Linked DNA regions of Homo sapiens: region 2 is linked to region 1. A link means that fine-mapping ties the variant in region 1 to the expression of a gene that starts in the linked region. Tissue or cell type: blood mononuclear cells. Region 1 holds a variant in brackets; the other region holds the start of a gene. All regions are shown on one strand. Distances are between the middles of the regions.

Region 1 (5,190 bases):
CACCTATGAGGCCAGGCATAGTGGTTCATGCCTGTAATCCCAGCACTTTGGGAGGCCAAACCAGGCAGATCGCCTGAGATCGGGAGTTCAACACCAGCCTGGCCAGCATGGTGAAAGCCCGTCTCTACTAAAAATACAAAAAAAAAAAAAAAAAAAATTAGTAGGGCATGGTGGCTGGCGCCTGTAATCACAGCTACTCGGGAGGCCAAGGAGGAAGAAGAATCACTTGAAACCTGGGAGGCAGAGCCTGCAGTGAACTGAGATCGGGCCACTGCACTCCAGCCTGGGCTACAGAGCAAGACTCCTTAAAAAAAAATAAAATAAATTCATCTTTGAAAGTTAAAAATAGGAATAGGCCATGGAAATGCTGGCAGTGAGTGGGTAAAGGGCCCCCTGGGCAGAAGCGTTGGCCACCACTGGTCCCCATCCCACCCCTGTCCTCTGGGCACCAAGGGGTCCTGTTACCAACCTTGCATGTCATGGGGCTGCTCCGCTTACCTGGATACGATGCTCATCCAGTCCTGGAAACCGACACTAGCCAGGCCTGTGCATGCCAGCCCTCCCCACAGCAGGGAGCCTTTGCTGGCCAGGAACATGCTGGGCACCCACAACAGGCACCCGGGCTGCCAGTAGGGGCCCCTCCCAGGAGGCTGCAGGTGTGGCTGTTGAGTTAAGGAAAGCCAGGCCGGCAGGTCCAGGCGGGACACCTTGCAGAAGCAGGCACAGGTGAGGACCCAGAGATGCAGAGCAGATTCCACCTCAGCCTTCACAGGAGCCCCTCCCTGAGGCTCCCAGACACTCCCCTTGGCTGCCCAAACCTGGTCTAGCCAAGAACAGGCAGGCTGCTCCACTCTGCCCCCTCCACCGGGCCTGAGGGCTTTCCTCCCTGCTGGCCTCTGCCCCAGCTGGGCAGCCCAGGGGCTCTTGCTGAGACGTGAGTCTTGTGGTGACCTGGCCAGGGCCTAAGGTCCCTCCACCTCCTCTGGGGCAGAGGCCTCACGGAGGCCCTTGGTGTGCCTGTCTGAGATTGGTGGCCCCAGCCTCATCCTCTTGTTTTGCATGTGAGAGGAAAGAACTAGCACATAATAAACACCCAAATTATGCCATTTAATTTTAATGACAAATGTGAGGTGGACGGTGTGGTCCAGTCCTGCGGATGGGGAACCAGGGGTCACAAGGGTACAGGTTGCGCCCCTCCCTCAGCAGATTGGAGGGAGCGGGGTCTGAACCCGGGCTGTCCAGCATCATGACTCGAACCCAGGACTTGCCTCTGCCTCATTAGCTTCAAAACAGGGAAGGGAGTCCCTGAGCCAGGGCTAGTGCTGGAGTCCCGCTTGGACACTTGGGAGCCGGGATCACCCAGCTCGGGCTCTCCCCACAGGGTCTACACGGACGTGCAGCAGGTGGCCAGCAGCCTCACCCACCCGCGCTTCACCCTCACCCAGAGTGAGGCGGACGCCGACATCCTCTTCAACTTCTCACACTTCAAGGACTACAGGTGAGGGCACCTCTGGCCGCAGGGGCCCTCCCAGTCAGGGCTTCTAGGCACTGCCGGCCTCCCCTTGAGCTGGCGCACCTGCCTCCGCCCTGCAGGAAACTCAGCCAGGAGAGGCCAGGCGTGCTGCTGAACCAGTTCCCCTGCGAGAACCTGCTGACTGTCAAGGACTGCCTGGCCTCCATCGCGCGCCGGGCAGGTGGCCCCGAGGGCCCACCCTGGCTGCCCCGAACCTTCAACCTGCGCACTGAGCTGCCCCAGTTTGTCAGCTACTTCCAGCAGCGGGAAAGGTGGTAAGTCCCAGACACGGCATCGGTGTGCTCCATGGCCCTTTTCCCCGGCCCAGCGTCTGTGTCCGCCTGCTCCTCCATGAGCACCCACTGTGGAAACCGTGGTGCAGGAGCCGAGCTGTGGGCCCCGAACGTCACGGCCGTCTTCACGGACCGCAGGACCTCTCCAGGTTTTTGCTGGGGCTGTCCTCTCCACCGCAGCGCAGCTGCCTGGCCTCTGGCAAACCCCTCCTTGTTTCCCATGCCCCTGCCTCTGACAGCTCTCTGGTGCCCCCTCAGCTCCCAAGGAGAAGTGGGCTGCCCTCTTCTGCCTCTGGGTCCTGGGGTGGCACCATCTGGGAACACAGGCCCCAGGCGCCCCCCAGACAGCCCTTCTGCTCCCCAGGGGCGAGGACAACCACTGGATCTGCAAGCCCTGGAACCTGGCGCGCAGCCTGGACACCCACGTCACCAAGAGCCTGCACAGCATCATCCGGCACCGAGAGAGCACCCCCAAGGTGGGCCCCGCAGACCAGGAGCCCCAGGGCTCAGGGCCCTGGCTGGACAGTGAGAGGTGGGGCTAAGGGGACCGAGCATCATGGTCCTTATGGACAGGTCCAGGCTGGGCAGGGTGGCTTACACCTGTAATCTCAGCACTCTGGGAAGTGGAGGAGGATCACTTGAGCCCAGAAGTTTGGAACCAACCTGAGCAACATAGGGAGACCTCGTTTCTACAAGGGAAAAAACTTTAAAAATTATCTGGGCATGTTGGCACACACCTGTAGTCCCAGCTTCTCAGGAGGCTAAGGCAGGAGGATCACTTGAGCCCGGGAGGTTGAGGCTGCAGTGAGCTGTGATCGCGTCACTGCACTCCGCCCTGGGCGACAGAGCAAGACCCAGTCTTTAAAAAAAGAACTGTCCTGGGTGCGTC[T/C]AATCGCAAAGTTCCTACCACATAGTGTGCCAGGTATGGCTGCCCAGCAGGGTGAGGTGGCTGAGCCTGGACAAGGAGCCTCTCAGAGCCGTGGTAAAGATTCATAGTGAGGGGACATCCAGAAGCAGTATTGGGATTGCAGGACACAGGATCTGCCTGGACTGTGTACATAGTCAGAGGCTGGCGGGAAATGCATCATGAGGACGATTGTCGTGGAGACTTCAGGCCATGGGATGGGGGTGGATGGAATTATGGGTGAGAATTTATATTTCATTTCAATTAAAAATGGATATAAAGACTTTGCTTCAGGGTGCGGTGGCTCACACCTGTAATCCCAGCACTTTGGGAGGCCAAGGTGGGCGGATCACCTGAGGTCAAGAGTTCGAAACCAGCCTGGCCAACATGGAGAAACCCCTTCTCTACTAAAAATACAGAAATTAGCTGGGGGTGGTGGCGGGCACCTGTAATCCCAGCTACTCAGGAGGCTGAGGCAGGAGAATCGCTTGAACCCGGGAGGCAGAGGTTGCAGTGAGCCAACATTGTGCCACCGCACTCCAGCTTGGGCAACAGAACAAAACTCTGTCTCAAAAAAAAAAAAAAGACTTTGCAGCAACTTAGGCAGGTTTGAAAAGGCAGAAGGAGGAGTAAAGTGCAGCCATGTCTGTGCCCCCTGCGTGGCTTTGTGTGCTCGGGAGCCCCAGGGGGCTCTGTCCTGGCCACCAGCGAGCTTGCACCTGTGTCCTCCAGGTTGTGTCCAAGTACATCGAAAGTCCCGTGTTGTTCCTTCGAGAAGACGTGGGAAAGGTCAAGTTCGACATCCGCTACATCGTGCTGCTGCGGTCAGTGAGGCCCCTACGGTTGTTCGTGTATGATGTGTTCTGGCTGCGGTTCTCCAACCGGTAAGTGGAGGGCCGGCTGGGTCCAGGGTCGGGGAGCTGGGTGACCGGGTGGAGGTAGCGGGTGGGTGATGGGCCCTTTTTGGAATCAGAAAATGTTGTTGGAAGGCACCCTCCATCACTCACCCAGCTAGCGGCCCTTGGAGCCCATCTCCCTTGGTGTTAATTGGCGGTGACTTGCCCTGCCCACCTCAGAGTTCTGGTGTTGCCCACAGTAATGGATGTGAACATTCTTTGTAAAATGGGCACCAACATGAGAACCAGGTGCCATTTTTATGGACCTGCAGAGGCTTCACAGCTAGCACCTCACTCACCTCCACCCCAGCTCAGTGGGGCTGTGGGGCTCCCCCAGCCACACAGACAAGGGAACAGGCTCCCGCCTGAGCAGCAGGTGGTCCTGCCCTGAGCCCTGAACCCCTAGTTGGGAAGGCTGAGTGGGTGGCACCTCCCTCGCAGGGACAAGGCCGCTCAAGAACCCATATGTGTCTGCACACTTGTCTTCCAGGGCCTTTGCACTCAACGACCTGGATGACTACGAGAAGCACTTCACGGTCATGAACTATGACCCGGATGTGGTGCTGAAGCAGGTAGGGCCTGAGGGAGGTGCAGAGCAGGTTCACACAGAGGCCAGGGCACACCCGACCCCACCCCGCCCACACTGCCTCCTAGGAGGACTGGCACACAGGCCAGTCCCAGGAGCCGCCTCCTGAGTTCCTGCTATGGAAGGCGATTGTTAGCGCTGCCATCATGAGCCAGGCTGGGTTCTGTGTTGTCTCAGGTAGGTCTCCCCACGGCACAGAGGGCCACTGGCTGTGTTTGAGATAATGTGGACACAGAGGGGGATGGGTCCAGCAGCAGGTTGAGACAGTGTGTTCCCAGCCGGGGCTTACTCCTCACCACCACTTCAACCGGAAAAGCAGACCACCCTGTGAGTGCCAGGGCAGGCGGGGGCGGGGAGGCCCCACCTGGTCCGGCTGGCTGCTGGCCCGTGACCCTGCCCGGGTCTAGGACCTCCTGTCCTCCCTGGTGCACAGTGTTGAGCGGTGCCCCATGCAGTGGGCACTCAGTGAATGGCAGCTGCACCATCTGAGCACCTGGAGCTCAGGGGCATCTGGACAAAGGCCCTTCCAAGGTGGGGGCGAGAAACCAGAGCTGGCCAGCCAGTGTACGTGGACAGGTAGGCACAGCCTGCACAGAAGCAGGAGGCCAGCTCTGGGTACAGGAAGGAAGAAAGGAAGTCCTGGAAGGCCTCTGTGGCCTGGCTGGTTAATGAGTGTTTCAGATGCACAGAACACCTACCCCACCCTGCCTGTCGCCAGCCTTGCAGGTGCCGCGGACTCCCCATGCAGCCAGCCCCAACGCTCCCCGACCCCTGAACGTGTGGCTGTCATTCCCAGGCATGTCTTTGGTTCTTTTCAGCAGGAGTATGTTCCTGACCATTCAAGCTGCTGTTTTGCTTACTTAGGTTTTTTGTTTTGTTTTGTTTTTTTGAGAGACAATGTCTCACGCTGTCACCCAGGCTGGAGTGCGGAGGCATGATCTGGGCTCACTGCAACCTCAATCTCCTGGGCCCAAGCCATCCTTCTGCCTCAGCCCCCT
Region 2 (5,127 bases), 22 kb after region 1:
TTCAACTCTGGAGGCGGAGGTTGCAGTGAGCCCAGCTGGAGCCACTGCACTCCAGCCTGGGCAATGGAGCGAGACACCGTCTCAAAAAATATATATATAAATAAAAATAAGAAATTAAGAATGACTTCCCTAGTGGTCTAGTGGTTAAAAAAAAAAATAAAAAAGACTACCGTTTTAAACAGAGAGCACATCCAAGCATTGTTTGCACCATCAAAAGTAAAGAAAACACAAATAAGCCGGGCGCGGTGGCTCACGCCTGTAATCCCAGCACTTTGGGAGGCCGAGGCGGGTGGATCATGAGGTCAGGAGATCGAGACCATCCTGGCTAACAAGGTGAAACCCCGTCTCTACTAAAAATACAAAAAATTAGCCGGGCGCGGTGGCAGGCGCCTGTAGTCCCAGCTACTCGGGAGGCTGAGGCAGGAGAATGGCGTGAACCCGGGAAGCGGAGCTTGCAGTGAGCCGAGATTGCGCCACTGCAGTCCGCAGTCCGGCCTGGGCGACAGAGCGAGACTCCGTCTCAAAAAAAAAAAAAAAAAAAAAAAAAAGAAAACACAAATAAGCCAGGAACAGTGGCTCATGCCTGTAATCCCAGCACTTTGGGAGGCTGAGGTGGGAGGATCGCTTGAGCCCAGGAGTTCTGCAGGAGACTGCAGTGAGCTATGATTGCATCACTGCACTCCAGCCTGCATACCAGAGTGAGACCCTGTCTCAAACAAACAAACAAAAACAAGAAAGGAAGGAAGGAAGGGGAAGAAAGAAAAAAAGAGAAAGAGAAAGGAAAGAAGGAAGGAAGGAAAGAAAGAAAGAAAGAGAAAGAAGAAAGAGAAAGAAGGGGTGGGAAGGGGAGGGGAGGGAGGGAGGAAGGAAGGACGGAAGAAAGGAAGAAAGCAAGCTAAAGTGAAAAGTAGGCTCCCTCCCTGCGAGCCCAAGCCCCTCACCCCAGCTGGAGAACCCGCTGTGAATACTTTCTGGTAGATCCAGCCAGACATCCTGCCTCACGCCAGGCACAAGTGTGTACAGACGACAGGACACAGCACATGTGCACACACACACTCCCAGGAAAGAAAGTGGTCCTCGGGGCACAGTGGAGAAGGCAGGCTGGGATCAGCCTGCACGGGTTCTGGCCCTGGCTCCACCGCGCCAGCTGCGTGACTCTGGACAAAGGCTTCTTTGGCAAGCCTCAGTTTCGCCGAACCTCCCTGTGGGGCTGCCAGCAGCCAGGTGGAGACTCAGGGGCCGCCTTCCCCTGCTGGGCTGAGGCTGGCTCTCCTGTCCTTGCCACACGGCCCCTTTCACCGCCAGTGGAAACCTGCCTCAGGCTGCCCTGTCCCGGGCCCCACCGACTCCACAGAGACGCCGGGCCTCGCCCACTGTTCTGGCAGTAGGCCTTCATGGGCAGGGCTTGCTGTGTGCCAGGCAAGCTGGGCGGCTGCTTCCTGTACACCACCTCCCCTGATATCCTCGCCCTGCCTGAGCCCATTCTGGGACAGCCTCAAGTCCTGTCTCTCCTGCCATCCAGCCCAGGGCACGCTGCTGGTATCCCGTAGCCCTGGCCCCTGGCAGGCTGGCCAGAGGGGCTCCAGGCCCACGCCAGGCCATGGCCTCTGGCAGCTGCCCTGGCCAGCAGCGCGTTCACAGCAGGAAGCCCCCGCTTCTCCTACCTGGGCTCCGGCTTCTTTGCAAGGGGTAGGGGAAGCAGACAGGTCCCAGAGGCTGCTCGGCTCACAGTAAGACCCGTCTAGGCTGCAACGCACCTGAGCCCCGCACTGGGAATCGAGGGCCAGGGGGCCTCTAACCGGCTTTGGGCAAAATAAACTTCCCCGATCTGGACTGTTCTCCACTACGAAACGGGGTGTCTCGGAGATCAAGAGCCCGAGGTCTCCCAGATATTCTGAGACCCTCAAGGGAGTTCCGCCTGGGATTGCCCATCCGCGGAATGGGCAGGAGAGGGAGCGTCGGCCACTCCTGGGACCGCGCTTCCTGCAGGAGAAGCCACGCGGCCAAGGGCTGGGCGTGGCAGGGTTGTCCAAGTTTTCCCTCCCGAACCCCCAGCCGGAGGCGGCCCGCGCTGGAACCCCGGCCGCGGAGGCCCAGACTCTGCTGCCCGCCGCCCCCTGACCCGGTAGCCGAGCCCCAAGTGCTGCCCCGGGTCGCCCCCTCGGGTGTCCAGTCTGCGGCTCCGGCCTCAGTTTCCCTCTGTCCCGCGGCGCTGCCAAGAGTCGCAGCCATGCGGGCCCCCACTTCCCGCTGCCCCCTCCGCGTCCCGTCCTCACTCACCAGCGGCGAGGGCACGCTCCGGGAAGGGCACTGCCTGGCAGGAGTTAGCCAGGCCGCTGTCCCCGCATCCGCCCCGCCCCTCCCAGCCGCCAGGCCCCGCCCCTCTCAGTCGCCCGGCCCCGCCCCGCCCCGCCTGGCAGCCCGGGCACTGGGCCCACTCGCGTCCCCGCGGGACCGGGAGCTCACTCCTCAAAGCCACCTCTCCCGCGGGACGCGCTTCTGCCTCCCCCCGGCCGCGAGCAAGTCTCTCGGCTCCTCCTCCTCCCCATGGTGACCGGTGACGGCCGCCCGGCCAGACCCAACATCTAAAACGTTGCCGTGTGTCCAACGGCGTGTCGTTTGTCGTCTCTTCTAGCCTCACTTTTCCCATCTATAAAATGCAGCAACAAGACCGATCTCCGAGTGGGGAATTACCTCTCCTGAGGCCAAGGCCCTGAGCGTCCTGCTGCCCAGCAGCCTTGGCCCCATTTCCGGAGCACCCCAGTTCCTTGAGCTGTTGACGCAGGGCACGGAGGCAGCGCGCTGCACTCTTAGTCCTGGCCCAGCCACTTTCTGACTGGCTCTCTGGGCCTCCATCTCCTCATCTGTAAAATGGGCACAAAGTCGTGGGACTGATGAGGCCGCAACGCGGTGATGCAGGCAGGACACCCCTCAGATGCTCGGCGCTCAGTGAGGGGAGGCTGCCATCATCACAGCCCAGAGGTGGCCTCCAGCTGCCCAGGTCCACTCCCATGCAGGGTGTGTCCAGCCCCAGGCCCTTGGCACTATGGCTGTCTTGCTGCAGTTCAAGGCTGTCCCAGCTCCCTCCAGACAACTCAGCCTGGCAACGCCCCATCAGCCTGAACCAGCCACGTTGGCCCAAACTGATCCTGCAGGGTCCAAGGAGAACTGTGGCTACTTCTACCCAGACACAGAAGCCAGGAGCCTCCTTGGGGACCAGCCAGGCTGCAGTATGGCTTTCCTAGGACCTGGCATTTTTGCCTTTGTGAGCCTCTTCCTCTATTAAAAAACAAACATACATAAATCTATTTTTTACTGTGTTGGCCTGAAGACAAGGATAACCCAGGCTTGGTTCCATTCTTCATTCATCTTTTTCTTCTGGGTTTCTTTTTTTTTTTTTTTGAGACGGAGTTTCGCTCTTGTCTCCTAGGCTAGAGTACAATGGCACAATCTCGGCTCACTGCAACCTCTGCCTCCTGGGTTCAAGTGATTCTCTCCTCCCTCAGCCTCCCGGTAGCTGGGATTACAGGCGCCTGCCACCATGCCCGGCTAATTTTTGTATTTTTAGTAGAGATGGGGTTTCACCATGTTGGCCAGGCTAGTCTCGAACTCCTGACCTGAAGTGATCCACTGCCTCGGCCTCCTAAAGTGCTAGGATTACAGGCGTGAGCCACCGCACCTGGCAGCTTTGTTTTTTTTTTTTTTTTTCTTTTTTAAAATTCCTTCTGGCCAGGCACGGTGGCTCATGCCTGTAATCCCAGCACTTTGGGAGGCCGAGGTGGGTGGATCACTAGGTCAGGAGTTCGAGACCAGCCTGGCCAACATGGTGAAACCCCATCTCTACTAAAAATACAAAAATTAGCTGGGCATGGTGGTGTGTGCCTGTAATCCCAGCTACTTGGAAGGCTAAGGCAGGAGAATCTCTTGAACCCAGGAGGCAGAGGTTGCAGTGAGCTGAGACGGTGCCACTGCACTCCAGCTTGGTGACAGAGCGAGACTCCGTCTCAAAAAAAAAAAAAAAAAATCCCTTCTTAGCCGGGCGTGGTGGCTCACACCTGTAATCCCAGCACTTTGTGAGGCCGAGGCCGGTGGATCACCTGAGGTCAGCAGTTCGCCACCAGCCTAACCAACATGGTGAAACCCAGTCTCTACTAAAAATACAAAAATTAGCTGGGCATGGTGGCAGGCGCCTGTAATCCCAGCTACTCAGGAGGCTGACACAGGAGAATCGCTTGAACCGGGAGGTGGAGGTTTCAGTGAGCCAAGATCACGCCATTGCACTCCAGCTTGGGTGACACAGTGAGACTCTTTCTCAAAAAAACAAAACAAAAAATAAAATAAAATAAAAATAAGACACACATGTGGCTGGTTGCAGTGGCTCACGCCTGTAATCCTAGCACTTCGGGAGGCCGAGGCAGGCAGATCACTTCAGGTCAGGAGTTGGAGACCAACCTGGCCAACACGGTGAAACCCCATCTCTACTAAAAATACAAAAATTAGCTGGGCGTTGTGGCGGGCACCTTTAATCCCAGCTACTCGGGAGGCTGAAGCATGAGAATCACTTTAACCCGGGAGGTGGAGGCTGCAGTGAGTCGTGATCACACCTCTGCACTCCAGCCTGGGTGATAAAGCAAAACTCAATTTAAAAAAAAAAAAAAAAACCACACACGTGTACACATTACAACAATAATACCAGGTGTGCCCATTCCCCAGTTATGACCAGAACATTACGAGAGTCCTAGGAGCGCCCTGGTGACCTCCCCAGCGATTCCTCCCCTCCCCAGAGATCACCTTTACTTTGACTTGGGTTGATCACGCCCTTGCTTTCCTTTAGGGTTTTATGAATCCCACCCGGGTGTGTTTCCCTGAGTACTATGTGTGCAGAGAGGCAGCACACCCCCAGCTGGGGCAGAACAGGCACCATGGCCAGGCCAGAAGACTCCCGGGAAGATAAACTCAGCTGAGCGCCTGGGGTACAGGCTGGGCCCGGCCTCTGTGGGCACTGACAAGAGGCCCCTCTGGGGCAGGCAGAGGGCATGGTTGTGGGTGGGGCTCCCCTGTGAGGACGTTGAGCACAGCTGTGGCATGCGCATTCAGCAGGAAATGGTCAGGGGCATGAGCTGTTCT

The links. PIP is the estimated chance that this variant, and not a neighbour inherited with it, causes the effect.
Region 2: TSPO starts here. The variant in region 1 is fine-mapped to the expression of TSPO in blood mononuclear cells (TOPMed, PIP above 0.99).

Annotation. Positions count from the first base shown.
Region 1 is chr22:43,170,807-43,175,996 of GRCh38, reverse strand. It overlaps TTLL12 (tubulin tyrosine ligase like 12), which reads left to right. Exons shown (of 14, transcript NM_015140.4): 7 at 1,382-1,498; 8 at 1,594-1,788; 9 at 2,171-2,282; 10 at 3,443-3,594; 11 at 4,097-4,178. Among named protein-coding and RNA genes, the nearest start is that of TTLL12, 14 kb to the left of the region's middle. The variant T/C (reference allele first, on the strand shown) is at 2,696.
Region 2 is chr22:43,148,758-43,153,884 of GRCh38, reverse strand. TSPO (translocator protein) reads right to left here and starts at 2,326. Exons shown (of 4, transcript NM_000714.6): 1 at 2,281-2,326. RefSeq lists an enhancer at 1,634-1,733 and a silencer at 2,355-2,574.